5 separate regions of the Homo sapiens genome follow, and all the other regions are reported to be linked to region 4. Evidence: microRNA targets listed by miRTarBase, many of them from high-throughput screens and not tested one by one. Region 4 holds a microRNA gene; each other region holds the end of a gene's coding sequence. Distances are between the middles of the regions.

Region 1 (4,054 bases), not on the chromosome of region 4:
GTGTGGATGTTGTGGACTTGGCACTTTTCTTAGTGCTTCCCGTCTGCACTGACGCACAGGCCTCAGGAGAGAAGGCCGTGTGGATGGCAATGATTGCAGGGTTTGTGTTCCCTCTTCAGCTGTCTCACTCTGCCAGACCAACAAAAACTGAGACTGAAGTCGCCAGTCCTGAGGAAGCAGGCTTGCCCCCAGTGGAAACACTCATTTGTCTTCAGTGGCGTAACCCCAGCTCAGCTGAGGCAGTCAAGCTTGGAGTTAACTGTCTGGGATCAGGCCCTCTTTGGAATGAACGACCGCTTGCTTGGAGGAACCAGACTTGGTTCAAGTAAGTCTGAGACATTGAGCCCAAACGTTTATACTTTGTGATTATCCTAATGGGTACCGTGCAAAGAAAATGCTTCCACCAGGGCAGTGACTTAACTGGTTTTGAAATTGCCTAGCCTGCCTTAATTGGAAATGCCTAAGTCTAGTTTTTACTCTACAGCTGAGCCATAATACAGCCAAGTATTTTGACAATTTAAATCAGATTTAGATCTGCTAAAGAAACAAAAATTATAGGCCTCCAAACGGGCTAGGTACAGTATTTGCTTTTGTTTCTGGCGTCAATCATAAAAGGATTATTTTCTTAAATGAAAATATCTTCTTAAACAAATGGCAATTCAGAAAGTACTTCATCAAAAGTGGTCAGAACAGCAGTGCTGTCCAGAGCCGCTCGGCAGGGCACCGCCGGCATGGTAGGTGGACAGCCCTCTGCTGTGAGGTTCTGTGCCTGGCACTGCTTCTGGCTGCCAGCAGTGTCCCTGACATGATGACAACCAAAAACACCTGCACACATCTCCAAGGACCTCCAACTGAGAACCAGTGACTGAAGAGAAATAAGCTTCACTGCTCCATTGCTTTTCAAAGATATTTTGTCCAAAGCATACTGTCTTCCTCTAAGAATCCCTTCCCATGGGCAAGCCCAGCCCCCAGTCTGAGACGGCCCCACCCAGCTAGCCATGCTGGTGTGCAACTATCCACTCCCTTGGTGAAGACCCAGCCCACCAAACCAGAGTCCTCGCCTCACTTTCAAACTACAGAACTCCAGGCTGTTAGAGCCTCGCAGAGCAGAGGATGCCTGCGTGAATCCCAGTCTCAACACCAGCTTTGTTGGGGTGGGAGTGGTGGTGGCGGCGTCTGTCATCAGTGGTTGGCCTTTTAATGTGGACTTGAGGTGAAAAACTTCTGGCTGGTCATCATTTTTAAAGGGATGAGAGGGGATGAAGTGGTGCCCTCCCCGACCATGGCTAAATTGTCTTCCTCTCTTACAGAGGGAGACACAGCTGTTGGCGGGGATGCATGCTCACTATCGAAGCTCCAGTGGCAGAAAGTCCTTTCCAGCCCCAATCTATGGACAGACATGACTCTTGTCCTGCACTGACATGAAGGCCTCAAGGTTCCAGGTTGCAGCAGGCGTGAGGCACTGTGCGTCTGCAGAGGGGCTACGAACCAGGTGCAGGGTCCCAGCTGGAGACCCCTTTGACCTTGAGCAGTCTCCATCTGCGGCCCTGTCCCATGGCTTAACCGCCTATTGGTATCTGTGTATATTTACGTTAAACACAATTATGTTACCTAAGCCTCTGGTGGGTTATCTCCTCTTTGAGATGTAGAAAATGGCCAGATTTTAATAAACGTTGTTACCCATGTCCTCCAGTGCTTATCAAATGAGGTAAAAGGCCGGCTGGTGGGCATGGTAACTCCCCCCTGTAATCCCAGCAACTTTGGGAGGCTGCAGTGGATGGCTTGAGCTCAGAAGTGTGAGATCAGCCCAGGCAACATAGATACCCTGTCTACAAAAAAACCAAAAAATTATCCAGGTGTGGTGGTACACACCTGTAGTCCCAGTTACTCAGGAGGCTGAACCGGGAGGATTGAGCCCAGGAGGTTGAGGCTGCAGTAAGCCCCGATCATGCAACTGTGCTCCAGCCTGGGCCAAAGTAAGACCCTGTCTCAAGGCGGGGGGGGGAGTCACAGCTTCGCTGTGAGAAGCACTTTATTTTTTGAGACGGAGTCTCCCCGTCACCAGGCTGGAGTGCAGTGGCACGATCTTGGCTTGCTGCAAGCTCCGCCTCCCGGGTTCTAGCAATTCTCCTGCCCCAGCCTCCCAAGTAGCTGGGATTATAGGTATGCACCACCACACCAGGCTAATTTTCGTATTTTTAGTAAAGATGGGGTTTCACCATGTTGGCCAGGATGGTCTCGATCTCCTGACCTCGTGATCCGACCACCTCGGCCTCCCAAAGTGCTGGGATTACAGGTGTGAGCCACTGTGCCCGGCTATGAGGAGCATTTTAGAGGAGCCTGATGAGTGTTGGAGCAGTCTTTCTCTCCTGTGGAAACCATCTCGAGGAGGTTAGGTGACCCATGGAGCACCATGTCTTGGGTTGGTCAGCTCCAACTTACCAGTGTACCCCCAGGGACACCACGGCCCCTCACGAAACCTGGCCAGAGGACAGCATAGAGCCCAGACGAGTCGGCGGTAGCCCTCCCACCCCACACACAAGCACACACCCGTGCTGCTTCGTGCCTTTGCAAAGCTTTTATTTCATGTCTGCGGCATGGAATCCACCTGCACATGGCATCTTAGCTGTGAAGGAGAAAGCAGTGCACGAGAAGGAATGAGTGGGCGGAACCAACGGCCTCCACAAGCTGCCTTCCAGCAGCCTGCCAAGGCCATGGCAGAGAGAGACTGCAAACAAACAAACACAAGCAAACAGAGTCTCTTCACAGCTGGAGTCTGAAAGCTCATAGTGGCATGTGTGAATCTGACAAAATTAAAAGTGTGCATAGTCCATTACATGCATAAAACACTAATAATAATCCTGTTTACACGTGACTGCAGCAGGCAGGTCCAGCTCCACCACTGCCCTCCTGCCACATCACATCAAGTGCCATGGTTTAGAGGGTTTTTCATATGTAATTCTTTTATTCTGTAAAAGGTAACAAAATATACAGAACAAAACTTTCCCTTTTTAAAACTAATGTTACAAATCTGTATTATCACTTGTATATAAATAGTATATAGCTGATCATTAATAAGGTGTATAAGTACAATGTATTCTAAAACTGTTAAGCAAAAAAAAAAAAAACAAAAAAAAAAATCCAAGTGTCCTCCTCCACCACTCACGCTGGTGATCACTGTGCTCTCTGCCAGCTGCGTGGAGTGACGGGAGGAGGGAATCACTGTGTGTGCGAGAGTGCTTCAGACTCAATTTCCAAAATAATTTTCACCCCTCTAAGCATGTAAATATACAAAGATGGATCCTTCATAGAAATTAAAAAATCAATTTGAGCTCATTTCGAATACAGAACAAGTATGGCACAGATGGAAGTCCTGCCACGTTTCCTTTAATGATGCTGACTCTTGTATCACACAGGCCAGCATGAAGTTTCTTACTCAGACTTTACAGGCATTTTCCGTAATTCAATCAGTCCTGCTCCCAGCACAACACAGGAGGTGATTCGAGAATAATCGCGAGAATCAGGCCTGCTTGGCACTATTACAACTGGGGAAAACAAACCAGGGCGCCTCCCTGGTTCCCAGCCCAGAATGTTTCTGTTGGGTAACTGCTTTCTAAAGGAACTGGGATCTGAGGGAGTTCCTAGACTTGGAGCACTAAAGACACAAGCGTGGCGGGGCTGGCAGCGCCCGCTATGAGCACCCCTCTGCCCTTGGTCCTGGCCTGGCTGTTACAGGGCCTCGAACTCGTCGATGCGCTGCTTGGTGTTGCCCTGCCGGATCTGCCGCAGCGTCTTGTACTTGTCCCGGCCTTGCCTCATGTTCTCGTTGTGGATGATGTCATTGTGGGTCCTCTTATTCTCATCTCGGGCCTGGGACAGCTCGCTGCTCAGCGTCTGTAACATTAAGCAGCATTGGTCTAGTCCCTTCCTCCCCATATGGCCCGGCCCGTCCCCTAGGAAAACAGGAAGGGCAAGAGGGGTGCTGGGTGGGGCTGGCTCACATCACTGCCCTCCCCAAGCCTGTCTGCTCCAAAAGCGAGGCAGGCTCCCTGGA
Region 2 (4,054 bases), not on the chromosome of region 4:
GCACTTGTTCTACACCAGAGGATTCACACTGGAGAAAGGCCTTACGAGTGCAGCAAATGTGGTAAAACCTTCAGTGTTCTGTCTACCCTCATTCGGCACCGGAAAGTGCACATTGGAGAAAGGCCCTATGAGTGTACAGAATGTGGGAAGTTCTTTAAATACAATAATAGCTTCATTCTTCACCAGAGAGTTCACACTGGAGAAAGGCCTTTTGAATGCAAGCAATGTGGGAAAGGCTACGTGACCCGTTCAGGCCTCTATCAGCACTGGAAAGTCCACACTGGGGAACGGCCCTATGAATGTAGCCTGTGTGGGAAAACCTTCACTACCAGATCCTACCGCAATCGGCACCAGCAGTTCCACACTGAAGAGAGGTCTTATGAATGTACAGAGTGTGGGAAGGCCTTCAAACATAGTTCCACCCTCCTTCAGCACAAGAAAGTCCATACTCCAGAAAGGCGTCAGGAGGACAGGGCACATGGGAAGGTCGTTAGCTGCTAGCACCGTGTTCATCAGGAAAGGTCTTATTCCAGAAAGGAGGTTAAGGAGAGTGGCCGTGAGAGTGCCATCCGAAAGAAGCTAAACCTTGCACATCCCAACACCCACCCCAGGGAGAGTTCCCGTGTGTGCCTGGTGTGTGGGACGCTTTCGGGAGCCACATTGCACTCTGACTTGCCTGGGGCTGTTGGCAGTGTCACATCACTGAGTTTATCCACCGCCATCCACCTCTATCCACCCCATAAGGTCCCTACAGCAAGTGGGACAGCAGACCTTGTGCTCCTTGCTCTAAACAGTAGAGAATCGTTAATAGTGGAGCCCAAAACAGGCCTCATTCCCTACCCTTGACTGGTTTAGCTGTGGACATGACCCACCTCTGGCCGGAGGAGCTGAGCTGGTATCTGCTGGGGGCTTCCTGGGAAGGTTTACCATTTTCATGGAAATGGTTGACATTACACATGGTATTTGTCATGCCCTAGCATGGACTGTCTCATACTGCTCTGGACTATGTGGTAATAAAGGCTTTATTGTTTAAGCCGCTTAAAATTTTTTTTTTATTTTTTTTTTGAGATGGTCTTATTCTGTTGCCCAGGCTGGAATGCAGTGGTGCCATCATAGCTCACCACAGCCTTGAACTGCTGGTCTCAAGGGATCTTCCTGCTTCAGCCTCCTGAGTAGCTGGCACTACAGGTGTGCGCCATCACACCTGGCTAATTTTTTTTTTTCATTTGTGGACAGGGTCTTGCTATATTGCCCAAGCTGGTCTCGAACTCTGAGCCTCAAGCTATCCTCCTGCCTTGGCCTCCCAAAGTGCTGGGAGCCACTGTGCCTGGCCTAGTTTTTTTAGAGACAGGGTCTCACAGTCTTGCCCAGGCTGGAGTGCAGTAGTGTGAAGCTAGCTCATTGCAGACTTGAACTACTGGACTCAAGTGATCCTCCTGCTTCAGCGTATTGAATAGCTAGGATTGTACTTGTGTGGCACCACATCTGACTAATTTTAAAAATTTGTATAGAGACAGGATCTTGCTACATTGCCCAGGCTGGTCATGAACTCTTTGCCTCAAGCAGTCCTCTTGCCTCAGCCTTCCAAAGTGCTGGTATTATAGTTGTGAGCCACTGTGCCCTGCCAAGTCTCTTTTAATATTGAGGTTCTGATCCCTGTGTGTGGAGAGATTGAGAATAGAATCCGGCACTATCACCGTAAGTTGAGGGAATGGCTTTTGTGGAGGTGGTCTCTTGAGTTTTTTCTGCCTCAGTGGGGATGGCAGGATGACAGAAAATACCTCTAGTCAAGGTTGGCCTAATTTGTATTGGCCCCTGAGTCCTCCAGGGAAAGACTTGTAGCCTGGATGTCAGGCTTTTTTGTGGGTCCAGAGCTCACCTTGCGGAAGGGAATAGTTGGTGAGAGATCTTCTATATGTTTATGGACATAAAAAGTTGGGTTCCTTGTTCCCAGGGAATGTTCCAGAACTTCCAGCATTGGTCAGAAGGAGCTGTTTCCAGATTCAGCTCAAAAGTCATATTCTCCAAAATCTGGAACATGGAGGTAAGTTATAGACTGACTCTAAGACCTATAGGGGCCTGTTGGGTAGAGTAATTTGAGTAGAGTAAGTGGGCATAGAAATATTGAGTGAAGTAGTATGGAGTGAAGTGTCTGATAAACAAGAGGATTTCAGCCAGTTCTAAAGAGGCATCCACAAATGTTCCAGCAACTGAGGTTTCCTGGGGTGAGGGCACCAGAACTTCTCAGCAATTGCAGACCTGTTATTTGTGTCAAGGTCACTGTCAGCAAATAATCTACAGACTTTCTGGATTCTCATATCCTCTCTGGGCTGTTCACCTCTCATGGCCATTATCCTGAGACTGAAAGATTCTATAGTCCTGGGATGTGCCTTTTGTGACCCAGCCAGTACTCCTGGTGTCTGGATGCTGTGGCCTTTGCAGTTGTCAAGTTTTTGCTGTCATGGTGTCAGGGCTTTCCCTCTGGGGCTCAAGAGAGACACGTAGGGTAACCAAAGTATGGATCCAGATCTTGCGGTTTATGGGACCTTTTCAGAGTCTTGCTGTGTCACGCAGCCTGGAGTGTAGTGGTATGATCACGGCTCACTGCACCCTTGACTCCAGGGATTCAAGTGATCCTTCTACCTCAGCCTCCTGAGTAGCAGCGACTACAGTTACACACCACCACACTCAGCTAATTAAAGAAAAAATCGTTTTAGGCTGGGCGTGGTGGTCGATGCATGTAATCCTAGCACTTTGGGAGGCCAAGGTGGGCAGATCACTTTAGGTCAGGAGTTTGAAACCAGCCTGGCCAACATGGTGAAACTCCACCTCTACTAAAAATACAAAAAAATTGGCTGGGTGCAGTGGCTCACGCCTGTAATCCCAGCACTTTGGGAGGCCGAGGCAGGTGGATCATGAGGTCAGGAGATCGAGACCATTCTGGCTAACATGGTGAAACCCCGTCTCTACTAAAAATACAAAAAAATTAGCCCGGCATGGTGACGGGCGCCTGTAGTCCCAGCTACTTGGGAGGCTGAGGCAGGAGAATTGCTTGAACTGGGGAGGCAGAGGTTGCAGTGAGCCAAGATCTCACCACTATTCTCCAGCCTGGGTGACAAAGCAAGACTCTGTCTCAAAAAAAAAAAAAAATTTGGGAGTAGGGGGTCAGGATTGGCGGCTCATGCCTGTAATGCCAGCACTCTGGGATACTGAGGTGGGAGGATCGCTTGAGCCGAGAAGTTCATAGACCAGCCTGGGCAACATGGCAAGACCCCATCTCTTTAAATTTTTTTTTTTTTTAAGAGACAAGGTTTTGCCATGTGCCCAGGCTGATCTTGAACTCTTGGGCTCAAGTGATCTTCCAGCCTCAGACTCCCAATGTGCTGGGGTTGGTGTGACACTGTTCCTGGCTTATACCCACTTTTATTTTATTTTATTTTTTTTGAGATGGAGTCACTCTGTTGTCCAGGCTGGAGTGCAGTGGTGTGATCTCAGCACACTGCAACCTCCGCCTCCCAGGGTCAAGTGATTCTCATACCTCAGTCTCCCGAGTAGCTGGGATTATAGGCATCGGCCAGCATGCCCGGCTAATTTGTATTTTTAGTAGAGACGGGGTTTCACCATGCTGGCCAGGCTGGTCTCGAACTCCTGACCTTGTGATCTGCCCACCTCAGCCTTTCAAAGTGCTGGGATTACCGGCGTGAGCCACCGCACCCAGCCTATATACCCACTTTTAAAGACATACGAGATGCTAAATGTTATTCAGAATGGGCTAGAAAATGGGTGGTAACTTCCAGCTGTTGCCATGCTAAGGGGCAGTAACTTCCGAGTGTTGCCAAGGCAGTGGCAAACTGCCATGGCAATGGCGGGCCTGTCTTACGGGGAAGTGCTTTCAGCGCCTTTTCCTGATTTCAGCGTCTTCAACCTGCTCTGGAGTAGAGTCCCATCTGCCTCCTACCTCAGCTTCACAAAAATCCCTTGAAGGAGGAATTATCTTCATTTTCCATTGCTCCCCCACTTCCCCAGACTGGCTGCTGGATAGGATATTGATCAC
Region 3 (4,054 bases), 180 kb from region 4:
ACTGTGGAGACAGTCCTGGTTGGAAACGTGGCAGGGAGCACCTGCAGTGCCGGAGCTGGGCTCCAGAGCTGACGGGGCCGCCCCTTCCCTGTAGTGGCCCTGGTGAGTCTGTCCCTCCTTCCCTGGGCCGCTCTGAGGACGAGGCCTGGCCAGAAGCCTGGGAGTCAGTGCCTGCTACAATCAGCATTTCCTCTGTGGTTTAGCTCCAGGCGGACGACGTGGGCCGAAGAGAGGAAGCTCAACACAGAGACCTTTGGGGTGTCAGGGAGGTTTCTTCGTGGCCGCAGTTCTCGGGGCGGATTCCGAGGAGGCAGGGGCAATGGGACCACCCGTCGCAACCCCACTTCCCACAGGGCCGGGACTGGCAGGGTGTGAGGGTGCAGCCAAAGGTGAGTGGATGAACCTTCTGGACGCTTTGGTGGGAGGGTGTAGGGTCAGGCACACCTGGAGAGCTTAGGAAGGTGGGGAGCAGGCTCGGTTTCCCAGGAAGAAGAGAGGCCCAGAGGTGTCAAAGCCAAACCGAGGGCCTCGACCCTATGAGTCACCCGGGAGGCTCTTGGCCAACTTCAACCTGCATCTGTGGGGGTAGGATCCAGGCCCCAGCATCCTCCAAGTGAGATTGCAGGTATGGGAGGTGAGGTGGTGCGGGAGTCGCGTGGGCTGGGGGCTCACCACCCAGGTGAAGCCAGCAAGTGAGACCTTGCTCCAAAGCCAGTGTCTTGGCCCAACCCGGCCCTAAGTGAATCAGAGGCTTCATTTTTAACCAGGTCCCAGTGGATTTGTGGGCACCTTAGGGTTTGGGCGGAGCGTCCCACATGGGGTGCCTGGTGCCAACCCCACCCAGCGCCTCGGGACAGCCAGGTGGGCCCTGGAAAGACTAGCCCTCCTGCCACTAGCTGCGTCCCTGTCCCCAGTGTATTGTACAAGTAGGATTCTCAGAGTGGGTTGTGAGAAGAATGGGGGTAGCCAGTCTGACTCTGGGGGCAGGAGGGAGGCTGAGTGGCTCCTGCTCGCCAGCAGGGGCAACAGTGCTAGCTTATCCCAGCAGATGCTTGACTTCCTGTCATCTCTTGCAGGCTCCTACTGAAGTGGCGCATAACTGACGCTGTGTGTGTCAGGACGCGAGGAAAACGCTGCACTTACAGGGAGAGGTGGTCACTTTGTTTACGGAGTTTGGAAGAGACCCATACTGCTACTTGTGTTTTGGACTTAACTGAACTTGGACATGGTCTGAGTTAGAACCACTTGTTTTGGGGAAGTATTCATGGGTAACCTCTTTGAGGTCTCTTTATCTGTGTTTCCTTTTTAGTTGCGCATAGCCTAATTCTAAGGTTTTGGTATTTTGCAAAAAGGTTTCTATAGTGAAAGCTGAATCCTTACTTTGTGACTTTTTTTTTTTTTTTTAATGACAAGCTTTGACTTTTAAAAGTGGAACCAAATCTGTTGGCAGAGGTGGCAGCCAAGTACATCTCTGTAACCCAGCTGGCCCCTGGTGCTGTTGGCCTGGCACCCCACTGCCAAGGGTGGGGTCTCAGGAGTCAGGCAGGGCCAGCACAGGGTGGCGTGGGGGGCAGGGGTGGGTGGGTGGAGGGCACGGAAGGGGTTTTCCCATGGATCATGTTGTATAAGTGAACCAGACCACCCTGATGGCATCCACAGTGATGTCAAGGTTGGGGCTGGCCAGGGGTGGGTGGACTAGAAGCATTTGGGAGTAGTGGCCAGGGGCCCTGGACGCTAGCCACGGAGCTGCTGCACAGAGCCTGGTGTCCACAAGCTTCCAGGTTGGGGTTGGAGCCTGGGATGAGCCCCGGCAGCGCCTTGGCCCTTCTGTGGTCCCTGCCAGCCTCTGACCTGGGCCGGTCAGTCATTGCTGGACTCTGGCCACACACTGGCGTTCTCATCCACTTGGAAACAAGCCAGTCTTTTCTGCAAGGTCAGTTGACCAAGAGCATATTTCCCCTCTGTTGTACATCGTTGTTTTGTGTTTGTGTTGTAACAGTGGGTGGAGGGAGGGTGGGGTCTACATTTGTTGCATGAGTCGATGGGTCAGAACTTTAGTATACGCATGCGTCCTCTGAGTGACAGGGCATTTTGTCGAAAATAAGCACCTTGGTAACTAAACCCCTCTAATAGCTATAAAGGCTTTAGTTCTGTATTGATTAAGTTACTGTAAAAGCTTGGGTTTATTTTTGTAGGACTTAATGGCTAAGAATTAGAACATAGCAAGGGGGCTCCTCTGTTGGAGTAATGTAAATTGTAATTATAAATAAACATGCAAACCTTTAAAATTTTCTTTTCTGATGCTCTAAGAATCCTGTTGACTCTTCTGCCCAAGTCACCTCTGCATCATGTCCAGGTCTGGAGCACACACTTAGGCTGGTGGAATTTGGGGAGACTTGGGCCCCATCAGGTGATGGAACGAGGTGGCTGACCCAATTGGTCGGGTGAAGTGCGGCCAGCAGACCCGGGTTCTCCCTGTGGGCCACCCTTCTGGGATGAATGGCTCTGCTCTCAGAAACTGGATACAAAGTTCTTTTAAAAACCCAGCTCACAGATAACACCTGTATCATAAGCAGTGGCCCCTTTGCCACCTTCCTGCTGCCTCCAAGCTCCCCAGCTCAGGAGCGTTCAGGTTCTCAGGCACCGTAGAGCATGTTACACAGCCATGAGCAAGCTGCACCCTGGACCCACGCAGAAAAACAAAGACATGGCTGGTTCTAGGCTCAGAGCATCCCATTTTAGTCTAATGGGTTTCCAGGTGACCTTAAAAGTGGCCCTCAGAGAGGACGAGGAGACACACCAGCTGCATGAGTTCTCCTTTCATTACCTGCCTGTGGCCATCAGGCTCCACAGCAGAACTGCCAGTGGGGGGCCCTCCCATTTCTTGGGTGGGGGTAATGGGTATCCTTGACCAGCAGAAAAATAAATGTTACGTGTGCCAGATACTGGTGGCCACAGTCCTCACCCAGCTAGAGAACTTGGTGAAACAGGTATTGCCTCCCAGAGCATCGCAAGGTAGTCAGGTTATCGTGTGCCAGCTGACCTTGCTGTTAAAATGTTCATTGTTTTGACAACTGTACATTTTACGCTGAGCTCAAAATGTATCTGGGCCCCTTTACTCCTTTTTAGAAGATACATGCCCAAAACCAAGGACCAGAGGACCCAAAAGCCTTAAACTGTGGGACTAGAAGTCAAAACACAGGAAAGGGCAGAGAATAGCCAGAACCAGTCTTCAACATAGGGGGCAGACGTCAAGATGTGGTCTATGAAAGTCAGACATGCAAAGCTGCTTTGAACAAAGCTGCTGCTCTACAGAATGAACCCAGGGCTACTTGTGTTTGTGTCCTTGACATTATACATTCATTAGGGGACTAGAATGAAGGTCTAAAAGCAAACGGAAGTCATTCTGTGTCTACAACAGAGAAACAGGTCTGCTGAAGGCCAGGTTTCTCTGCAGGACCCAGGGCAGCAGCTCTGACTTCCCAAGGGAGGAACCTGTGTCTCACACTGGCTTACTGTCTTAGCCACAAGGAACAGAAAGGAAAGCTCAATTACGGTGGCTCAGGGTTGAAAAAGAAGGGTGAGAGATGAGAGGACTGCTGTGATTGCACCTAAAGATACACATTCTCTTAAAAAAAAAAACAGGTTAAAAATACGGAAGTTTATTGTAGGACACTCAGTGTGAATAAATGGAATGGAAAGGCCTACACATCGAGACTCATCCATGATTGATATGAATTTAAAAATTACAAGCAAAGACATTTTATTCATCATGATGCTTTCTTTTGTTTCTTCTTTTCGTTTTCTTCTTTTTCTTTTTCAATTTCAGCAACATACTTCTCAATTTCTTCAGGATTTAAAATCTATAGAAAAAAACTTCATGGTTACCTAAGCCACACAAGGTGCCAAGGAACCAGCGCCCTCTTCTGGGGAGGGCGGCCAGGCTTTGGCACTGCTGCTCATACAGCCTCTTTGGAGAGGAACCTCAAGAAAAACAAGAGGATGCTGGCCTGACCTAGACAAGTATTAAGCAGCAGTAGCAGCAGCAGCAGAT
Region 4 (4,066 bases):
CCCAGGGTGAGGCCCTGTGGTGGGGGTGAGGGTCAGGTGATCTGCGAAGCACCCCCCTCCCAGCTTCAAGTGGGGAGCTTACAGGCCTAGAGGTCAGGGCCTGGCAAACGACCTGAAAAATCCAGCTTGAGGCCCTTTCCAGGGAGCCCCAGAGGCCTTCTCTTGGGTCATTTCCCAGGATGGGGGTCGCTGTCACTCCTCTGTCCCAGGAGGATTCAGAGAGGTCAGTTCACAGGCCTATGCTGGGCAGAGCCACTCATCCACGGCACTGGCCACTCAGCCAGGTATTGACAGACCCACCCGCAGGGCAGACAAAAGAGGCATGGCCCAGCCAGCTGCGGGACCCTGCACCCCCCACTCACTCACACATGTGCACATGCACACACATGCACACGTGCAAACACACACACACGCACACACACACAGCCCTCCTCGGCTCACAGGGGGCTGCAGGACGCTGTCCAAGGTACTGACCTCCCTGCTGCTGGGCCCCTCGCTGCTGAGCCAGGCAGGGGAAGTCAGCTGGGCCAACTGGGAGGGTCGGGCAGGGACAGCACCTGAAATCCCTGCTCAGCCCCCTGTGCCGTTCCTGCCCCTGAGACCACGGCCAGCCACCCAAGGGCTACCCCTCAGCAGCCTGAGGACACAGCGCCGGCTCTTCATCTCAAGCACACGGAGGTGCAAGAGGGAGGGTCTGCGGCCTCGGCAGAGACAGCCGGATGCACTGAGACCCTGGCCTGGGGCAGGCAGGGGCTCCCTCAGGGGGCTCAGAAGGGGTCAATGCTGCAGACCACAGGCCGGCCCAGCCTCAGGCACGGTCCACCTGGCACAGCACACTTCACAGTGTTGAATATACTGTTGTATTTGTTTCCTGAGGTAACAAAGTCCCACAAACTCGGTGGCTTAAAAGAAAGACATTTATGCTCTCCCAGTCCTGGAGGCCAAAAGTCTGAGATCAGTATCCCTGGGCCGAAATCAAGGGGTCGGCAAGGCTGAGCTCCCTCCGGGGAATTAGGGGACGAGCCCTCACTGCCTCTTCCAGCCTCCAGTTCCTTGGCTCACGCCCACATCACTCCCGTCTCCACCTCCATCTTCACTTCATCTTAGTGTAACCTCCCTCCATCTCCCTCTTACATATGGACACTTCCCATTGGATTTCGGGCCTATGACTAGTCCTGAAAGATCTCATCTTGAGACCTTCAACTTGATCATATCTGCAGAGACTCTATTTCCAAATAAGGTCACCTTCACGGGCTGTTTTTCTTTTAGGGCGGTGGGGGTGGGGGGGGGGGGATTTTTCAGCTGACCACAATTGTCAACATTAAAAAATCAAGATATTGTAGGGGTCCCACCTAGATATTGAGGAGGTGGACAACAGGAGGACTGGGTCTCTCCTTCATCCCTCAGCTGCCAGGATGGAGGGTTTGGGGGGGGTCATTTCTTACACAGCTCCCAGTAGGAGATGCTGTGTAGCCTTGGGAGTGTCACTTAGCTACCTCTGGGCTTCCTTGTCTGTTGCTGGGACCGTGTATCAGCTAGTTGCTGAGTAACAAACACAAACACGATCTCAGCAGCACAGAGTCAGCATTTGGTTGGCTGGTCCAGGCCAGGCCGCTGGGGCAGCTGAGCTCTGCCCCCCACTCCCTCATCCTCCCCCTGACCAGCAGGCTAGCCACCCTCACTGATGGCAGCAACACAGGACAGCAGCCTGGTCACCGCAGCTCTCAGTTCAGAGCACCACATGCCCCGTGAACATCCCCTCAGTCAAAGCAAGTCACATGGCTGAACCCACAGTCAAGGGGCAGGGAATTAGACTCCACCCCCTTAGTGGGGGAGCTTCAGAGGCACAGGGCAAGCGTGGTTGGCAGGGGTGAAGGATGGGGCCAGTGATGCCAGGGGCCCACAGGGGTGCATGGGGGTCAGAACCCATCATTCACTCCCCAAGCACAAGCCCAGGGCCAGCTGGCCCACAGGTCCCCCTGGTGCCCAGCATCCCCCCGTCCCCCTCCCATGGGGTGGGGCTCGCATCCAATGCCTGGTTCCAAGTGTCCTCCTCATCTTACCTGCATGGTGACCATCCAGGACGCTCTCCCTGAGCCCGCTGCTTACTGAGTGCCACGGAGGCCTGCAGGGGGAGTGGGCACACACAGGAGAGACGCATGATTTGCAATCTCGTTAATGAGCCGTAGCACAATCACAGACCTGCCCTGACAAGGAGCTGCACTCGTGGTAACATAAAACTGTCAGCCAGCTGGGCGCGGTGGTTCACGCCTGTAATCCCAGTACTTTGGGAGGCTGAGGCGGGAGGATCACCCGAGGTCGGGAGTTTGAGACTGGCCTGGCCATCGTGGCGAAACCCCGTCTCTACTAAAAATACAAAAATCAGCCAGGTGGTGGTGCATGCCTGTAATACCAGGTACTCAGGAGGCTGAGGCAGGAGAATTGCTTGAACCCAGGAGGCAGAGTTTGCAGCAAGTCAAGATCATGCCACTGCACTCCAGCCTGGTGACAGAGCGAGACTCTGTCTCAAAAAAAACAAATTTTTTTAATAAAAAAAAAACCTGTCAGCCAACGAAGCTCATTACAAGCTGCTCCTCAGACTTCCTGTCAGCTGGGACTGCATCCGCCTGTTCAGCCCTTCCAGGCCTGGAGCTGGAGCCCAGGAGGGAGGCCAAGGGGTCCCACTGCAGCTGGGGTGCTGACTGTTAGCTACCAGCCCTTCCGTGGGCCTGTCAGGTTCAGTCTCGGATGCTGTGGGGCCCTGGGACCCCTCATGGGAAGCTGACTTGGACCGTTCAAGAGCCCTATCTAGCCCTCAGCAGGACAAGATCCTCTCAGCAACATCCCCAACACACACTCAACCAGACAGCCTGCAAAGAGCCAGTTCTGTATTTGGACAGCTCGGCTCCCCATGGTACCCTTGTACTCCATGGTAAACCAAAACAAGCTTCTTTGTAACTTCCACCTACTAAAACCATTCCATTACCACCAACTAAGACGGATTCTCCACCTGCCCATCCCAAACCTACCCCCAGGTGTCCCGTGTCTCCTTGTCTCCTGCATCTGCTGCCCACGTGCAGGCTGAGTGTGAAATAACAAAGGACATCCTCCTGGTGGCGCGGGGCAGAGAGCCAACTCACAGAGGGGAGGACATCCACGCTGGCCACGAGCCAGCTCCCCACAATGACCAGCCCAGCCACCCCGATGGTGGGGGAGAATGGGTCCTCCCTCTGCGATCTGAGAGTTCCACTCAGTAGCCCTCAAACCCTACTCCACACACACCTGTTCGCCCTGAATCTAATGTGCTCACTTTGAGCTATCTTCCTGTATGCCTTTTCCCAGGCTGATACCCTCTTTTCTTTGCTTTTGCAAACTAGCTGAATTTCTTAGCCAGAGCCATCAGGCAAGAGAAAGAAATAAAGGACATTCAAATTGGAAAAGAGGAATTCAAACTACCTGTTTGCCAATGGTATGATCTTATACCTAGAAAGCCCTAAAGACTCCTCCAAAAGACTCCTAGATTCGATAAATGAATTCAGTAAAGCCTCGGTCACAACATCAATGTAGCACTGCTATACACCAACGATGACCAAGCTGAGAATCAAATCAAGAACTCAATCCCTTTTACAATAGCTGCAAAAAAATAAAATACCTAGGAATATATGTACCCAAGGGGGTGAAAGATCTCTACAAGGAGAACTACAAACACTGCTGAAGGAAATCACAGATGACACAAATGGAAATATATCCCATGCTCACTTATTGGAAGAATCAATATTGTGAAAATGACCAAACTGCCCAAAGCAATCTACAGATTCAGTGCAATTCCTATCAAAATACCAACATTCCTTTTTCACAGAATTAGAAAAACAATGCTAAAATTCATTTGGAACCAAAAAAGAGCCTCAATAGGCAAAGCAATCTTAAGCAAAAAGAACAAATCTGGAGGCATCACATTACCTGACTTCCAACTATACTACAGGGCTATAGTTACCAAACAGCATGATACTGGTGCAAAAGTAGATAACAGACCAATAGAACAGAATAGAGAATGAAGAAATAAAGC
Region 5 (4,054 bases), not on the chromosome of region 4:
AACCATTGCAGTAGTGACTTATGATGGCCTGTGGAGGGCTGTAGCCTCAAAACACTCAACCCTTGCTTGTAAAAAGTAATTATTTTATTTTGCAGGAGGCTGTTATTGAAAATCGAGCCCTGTGGATGATGATTAAAAGATGTTTCGGCTATCAGTCAAAAAGCCAGTATCGGATATGGCAGAGGGACTTGGCAAATGACCCTAGTTGGCCCCCGCTAAACCAAACCTCCCACTCTGACATGCCGGAGTGTGGCAGAGGAGTGTCTTACAGCAATCCAGTATTTGAGAGCAATGAAGAACAACTCTGAAGGACATGTGATATCCAAGTTGATATTACAGAGAAACAATGACAAAAGGGACCAGTTTCATTGATTTTAAGAAATGAGACTCTTGTAACATCAGCTGGAGTTTTGGGGCTACCTATCAAATCATGGTGACAAACTAAAGTCTGTTTGATAAAATACTGTCTACAGAGAAGAACATTGACCCAGAAGAGTGCTTTCCTCTTGGCTTCTGAAGGTATTAGAGGCATTCAGTGAAGGCAAGAATGGGCCAAGAATTTCTATGGGCCAAGAGACAAGCAGGCTAAAGGGGAAAAATATGTGATCTTTCCTCTTAGGACAGGACAATACTTTCCTTTTTATAAAAATGAGTTGAGGGGAAGTAGTACTGTGTATACTCACGGAGTTGTAATTTTTGAATTTTTACTTCATCGATGGAAAAACTAATGCGTGGGAAACATTACACCAATCTTTACTGTCTGGGTTCCTTTTCTCTGTAGTACTTTTCAGATTTGAGGCTTTTTCTTCTGTTTCTGGCCTTACCCAACATATTGTTAAGGATAAGCTTAGCCTATGCTGCAATAAAAAACAACTCTCAGATATCAGTGCCTTAACACACAAGTGCTTCTTTCGTGATCCAGGTGACACTCTGGAACTGCCATTCTTACAGCAGTGACTGCTTCAACCTGATGGCTCCATCAGCTCGATGCAAGGACTGTGTGTTGACTGTGATGGGGGAAGGAATAGACTGGAGATCACGTGTGGGCTCTTCACTGCCTCACCCCAAAAGTGGCACACATTGCTTTCCCTACTCATATCTCATTAGTCAAGGATTTGGCCAGGGAGCTGGAAAGTGCAGTCTCCTGTGTTTAGGGATGCTTCATGGGCTTATGAGCTGTCACTACACAGGGCCCCATGCTTAGAAGGTCCCCACACTTGGCTTTAACACTCTGCTGTTTCCATCTTAAAATTCTTAATTTTTGAACAGGGGTCCCCATATTTTCATTTTGTACCAGGCCCCACAAATGATAGAGTTGGTCTGGAACGTAGTCCTGGGAAGGAGAGGAAAATAACAGATCAGAAAGCACGAGTGCTGTCCACTACAGCCCACTTTTCCTAACCCCAGTAACTTATCCTATGTTTTAGGAATCTCTCATGTCACATGGCCAACTCCAGAAATTTTCACTCCTCTGCTTTATTATTTTTGAGAAACATTAGTCTCATGCTACAGCATTATATGGCACTATTGATGGGAGTTCTTACACAACTAGTACATTTTTTTTTTAAAGTTTGTGGCTTGAGTTTCCAGAAAACTAAAATTGTCCTTATTTTGTCACTATTACAATTTGGTTATATTTGATTTGTTCAGCACAAGGAAGACTCAGGTTTCTGTTACCTCAGGAGACAACACTGAACTCTAGGAGCACACCTACATATAATATTTTAAGGCAAAAGCAAAATTTGTATTATGAGCATCAAATCCTAGGTGAATGTTCTGATCAGGGGATAAGTGTCCTGGCCCAGGCTGGCTTTGGAACTTATCAATAGCATTTGCAAGCATTCCTTCCCCCTAACTGAGCTCTTGAGCATGGCTGATGGCTCTATGATTGCAGCTGATTCTAGGAACATGGTGTCTCCCAGCCATGAGGGTACCCTGTTACTTCTGGTTTTAAAATAGGGCGTGAAGATATTTTAGTGTTTCAAGACTGCAGAATCACTGTCTTTTTTGGTACAGAAAGAAATGTTTCCTTTTGCAAAGCCAGCCTCAGCAATGATATGGCAGTTCTGAATGTCCTTCTCTAAAAGTGTTTCTCATTTTCCAAAAGTAGAGGGTTGTAGGCAGGGGCAAGCTAGAGATGGTCTGTGACCTAGTCATGAGCAAGATCAGCCTGCACAGTTCATACTTAAATGTGCCCTTTGCTAAGTGCATTCACCTCCACTAACTCACCTGAATGGTACCAATTGTCCCATGACTGAACAAGGAAGGGCTTATCATCTCCACCATACAGATGAGAAAGCTGAGATTCAGTAATGGCAAGAGCAGATCTAGGCCTCAAATACAGATCTTCTGAGCAAACCTTATATTGCTGCCAAATACTTCCAAATTCCAGAGTTCCAGCAGGGCAGGTTGCTTAGTGTGATCTCACAGTCAAGCAAAGAATGGGCAACCCTTTGCTAATACCAGGCCCTCTGTTCAAATGAATGCCAGGCATCCTGCCAGGCCTGGGCTAGAGGTGTATTAAAAACAAAACAAAACAAAACAAAAAAATGATTGTCTGTCTTTCTGAGACTTTGAGTTGCTCTTGCCTTGATCCTAAGTGATTCTATCACTAGCAAAGGCTGGCAGGGAACAGGAAGAAAAGAATCTAGTCCTCCACTAGTCAAGCAGCCATAAAATCTTTGGGAAAAGAGACTCATTTTGAAGACTGTATTCCTGGGATTAACTACATCTTAGAAGCAGTAATTGAAGGAACAGGGAGTGCCCAGCCTGGAAAGAAAACAGTCAGGGGACTGTGAAGGGTTTTCCTGAGAAAGAAGGATCCTACTTGTGCCAGGTGGCATGAGAAGGCAAAATCAGGACAAATGGGTAAAGATCACAGTGGGGATGGCTTCAGGCCATCTGCCCTAACCACTGTCCTAACAGCCAGCACTGATAGCAGTGGAATGTACTCTAGGACATTGGAGGAACAAGTGGCTATTCAAGGGCCAAGTAGAGAAGGAAGTCAAGTATCAGATGAAACTCAATTACCTGCAAGATCTCTTTCAAGCTTGATACACCCAGTGTCTCAGTCTTATGCTGTGATGTGAACCTTTTTTTTTTTTTTTTTTTTTTGAGATGGAGTCTCACTCTGTTGCCCAGGCTAGAGTGCAGTGGCACAATCTCGGCTCACTGCCAGCTCCGCCTCCCGGATTCACACCATTCTCCTGCCTCAGCCTCCCAAGTAGCTGGGACTACAGGTCTGCCACCATGCCCGGCTAATTTTTTGTATTTTTAGTAGAGATGGGGTTTCATCATGTTAGCCAGGGTGGTTTCAATCTCCTGACCTCGTGATCCGCCCGCCTCGGCCTCCCAAAGTGCCGGGATTACAGACATGAGCCACCAGATGTGAACTATTTTCTACTACTACCCACACAGAATACCAGACAGACACTCATGGGAGGATGGGCTCTGGAGGGAGGGCTCCCAGCCTTGTCAGATCCGATTGTGTGGACATATAGACTCAATTGCCCTGTACCTTGAAAGGGGACCCCTAATGGAGATAAGATCCTAGGAAAGAGGGGCAGAGTAGGGGTCCTGATTGTCAGATTGAAGCTGGGGTAATACTTCTGATTTGTGAATTTTCTTAAAGAGAGGTGTTAAAAAACTTTGCATGAAAGAGCGTGGGAGAGTGCCCTAAACTTGAGGGCGGAGCAACCTGTTATCAATACACTTTCTTGAGCAGAGTCTGAAGGAGAAACGAACACAGTCACATAGTCCAAATCATTTGAGACGGTGCCCTGTATGTTCATCTCAAGGCATCTAGCTCTTACCCACAGAGAACCGTGACTCTGGGCTTCCCTCACTAAATATGTCTGTGACATCTGTATCCTTATGTGCTTATGGAAATGTTCACATACACACCTGCAGATGTGATGACTGAAAAAAACGATTATTTATTCAGAGCTTTGTATTTAGTTTATGCTATAATAAATTCAGTTGTTATAAAAATCAGTCTCTCTCTCTGCGGTGGAGTCTTTCATTCTGTCTAATGGTGTGGTTTACTCCAGTAATG

The links. The annotated mature microRNA hsa-miR-1257 reads AGUGAAUGAUGGGUUCUGACC and lies in region 4 at 1,918-1,938, opposite strand. An mRNA with a match to its seed (bases 2 to 7 or 8) in the 3' UTR can be bound and repressed. Matches are read on the target gene's strand: a 7mer-m8 pairs with bases 2 to 8, a 7mer-A1 pairs with bases 2 to 7 and ends in A, and an 8mer does both.
Region 1: miRTarBase lists EZR as a target of hsa-miR-1257. Seed matches in the 3' UTR shown: 7mer-A1 at 2,798-2,804.
Region 2: the mRNA of ZNF584 is a reported target of hsa-miR-1257. The part of its 3' UTR that is shown has no 7-base or 8-base seed match.
Region 3: miRTarBase lists PSMA7 as a target of hsa-miR-1257. Seed matches in the 3' UTR shown: 7mer-A1 at 3,681-3,687.
Region 5: miRTarBase lists ATP13A4 as a target of hsa-miR-1257. Seed matches in the 3' UTR shown: 7mer-m8 at 2,209-2,215 and 7mer-A1 at 3,192-3,198.

The regions. Positions count from the first base shown.
Region 1 is chr6:158,763,185-158,767,238 of GRCh38, forward strand. It overlaps EZR (ezrin), which reads right to left. Exons shown (of 14, transcript NM_001111077.2): 14 at 2,564-3,894. The coding sequence ends at 3,730. It overlaps SYTL3 (synaptotagmin like 3), which reads left to right. Exons shown (of 18, transcript NM_001242394.2): 17 at 120-325; 18 at 1,311-1,687. The coding sequence ends at 1,420. MIR3918 (microRNA 3918) reads right to left here and starts at 1,569; the gene lies at 1,477-1,569.
Region 2 is chr19:58,417,284-58,421,337 of GRCh38, forward strand. ZNF584 (zinc finger protein 584) reads left to right here. Exons shown (of 4, transcript NM_173548.3): 4 at 1-1,044. The coding sequence ends at 501. It also overlaps a transcript of ZNF324B not described here. Among named protein-coding and RNA genes, the nearest start is that of ZNF584, 11 kb to the left of the region's middle.
Region 3 is chr20:62,133,087-62,137,140 of GRCh38, forward strand. It overlaps PSMA7 (proteasome 20S subunit alpha 7), which reads right to left. Exons shown (of 7, transcript NM_002792.4): 7 at 3,647-3,863. The coding sequence ends at 3,771. LSM14B (LSM family member 14B) reads left to right here. Exons shown (of 9, transcript NM_144703.3): 8 at 204-389; 9 at 1,077-2,288. The coding sequence ends at 375. Among named protein-coding and RNA genes, the nearest start is that of PSMA7, 8.3 kb to the right of the region's middle. RefSeq lists an enhancer at 757-1,256.
Region 4 is chr20:61,951,704-61,955,769 of GRCh38, forward strand. It overlaps MIR1257 (microRNA 1257), which reads right to left and starts at 1,959; the gene lies at 1,843-1,959. RefSeq lists a silencer at 397-597 and enhancers at 585-1,157, 1,968-2,467.
Region 5 is chr3:193,398,906-193,402,959 of GRCh38, reverse strand. It overlaps ATP13A4 (ATPase 13A4), which reads left to right. Exons shown (of 30, transcript NM_032279.4): 30 at 96-3,993. The coding sequence ends at 308. Among named protein-coding and RNA genes, the nearest start is that of ATP13A5, 22 kb to the right of the region's middle.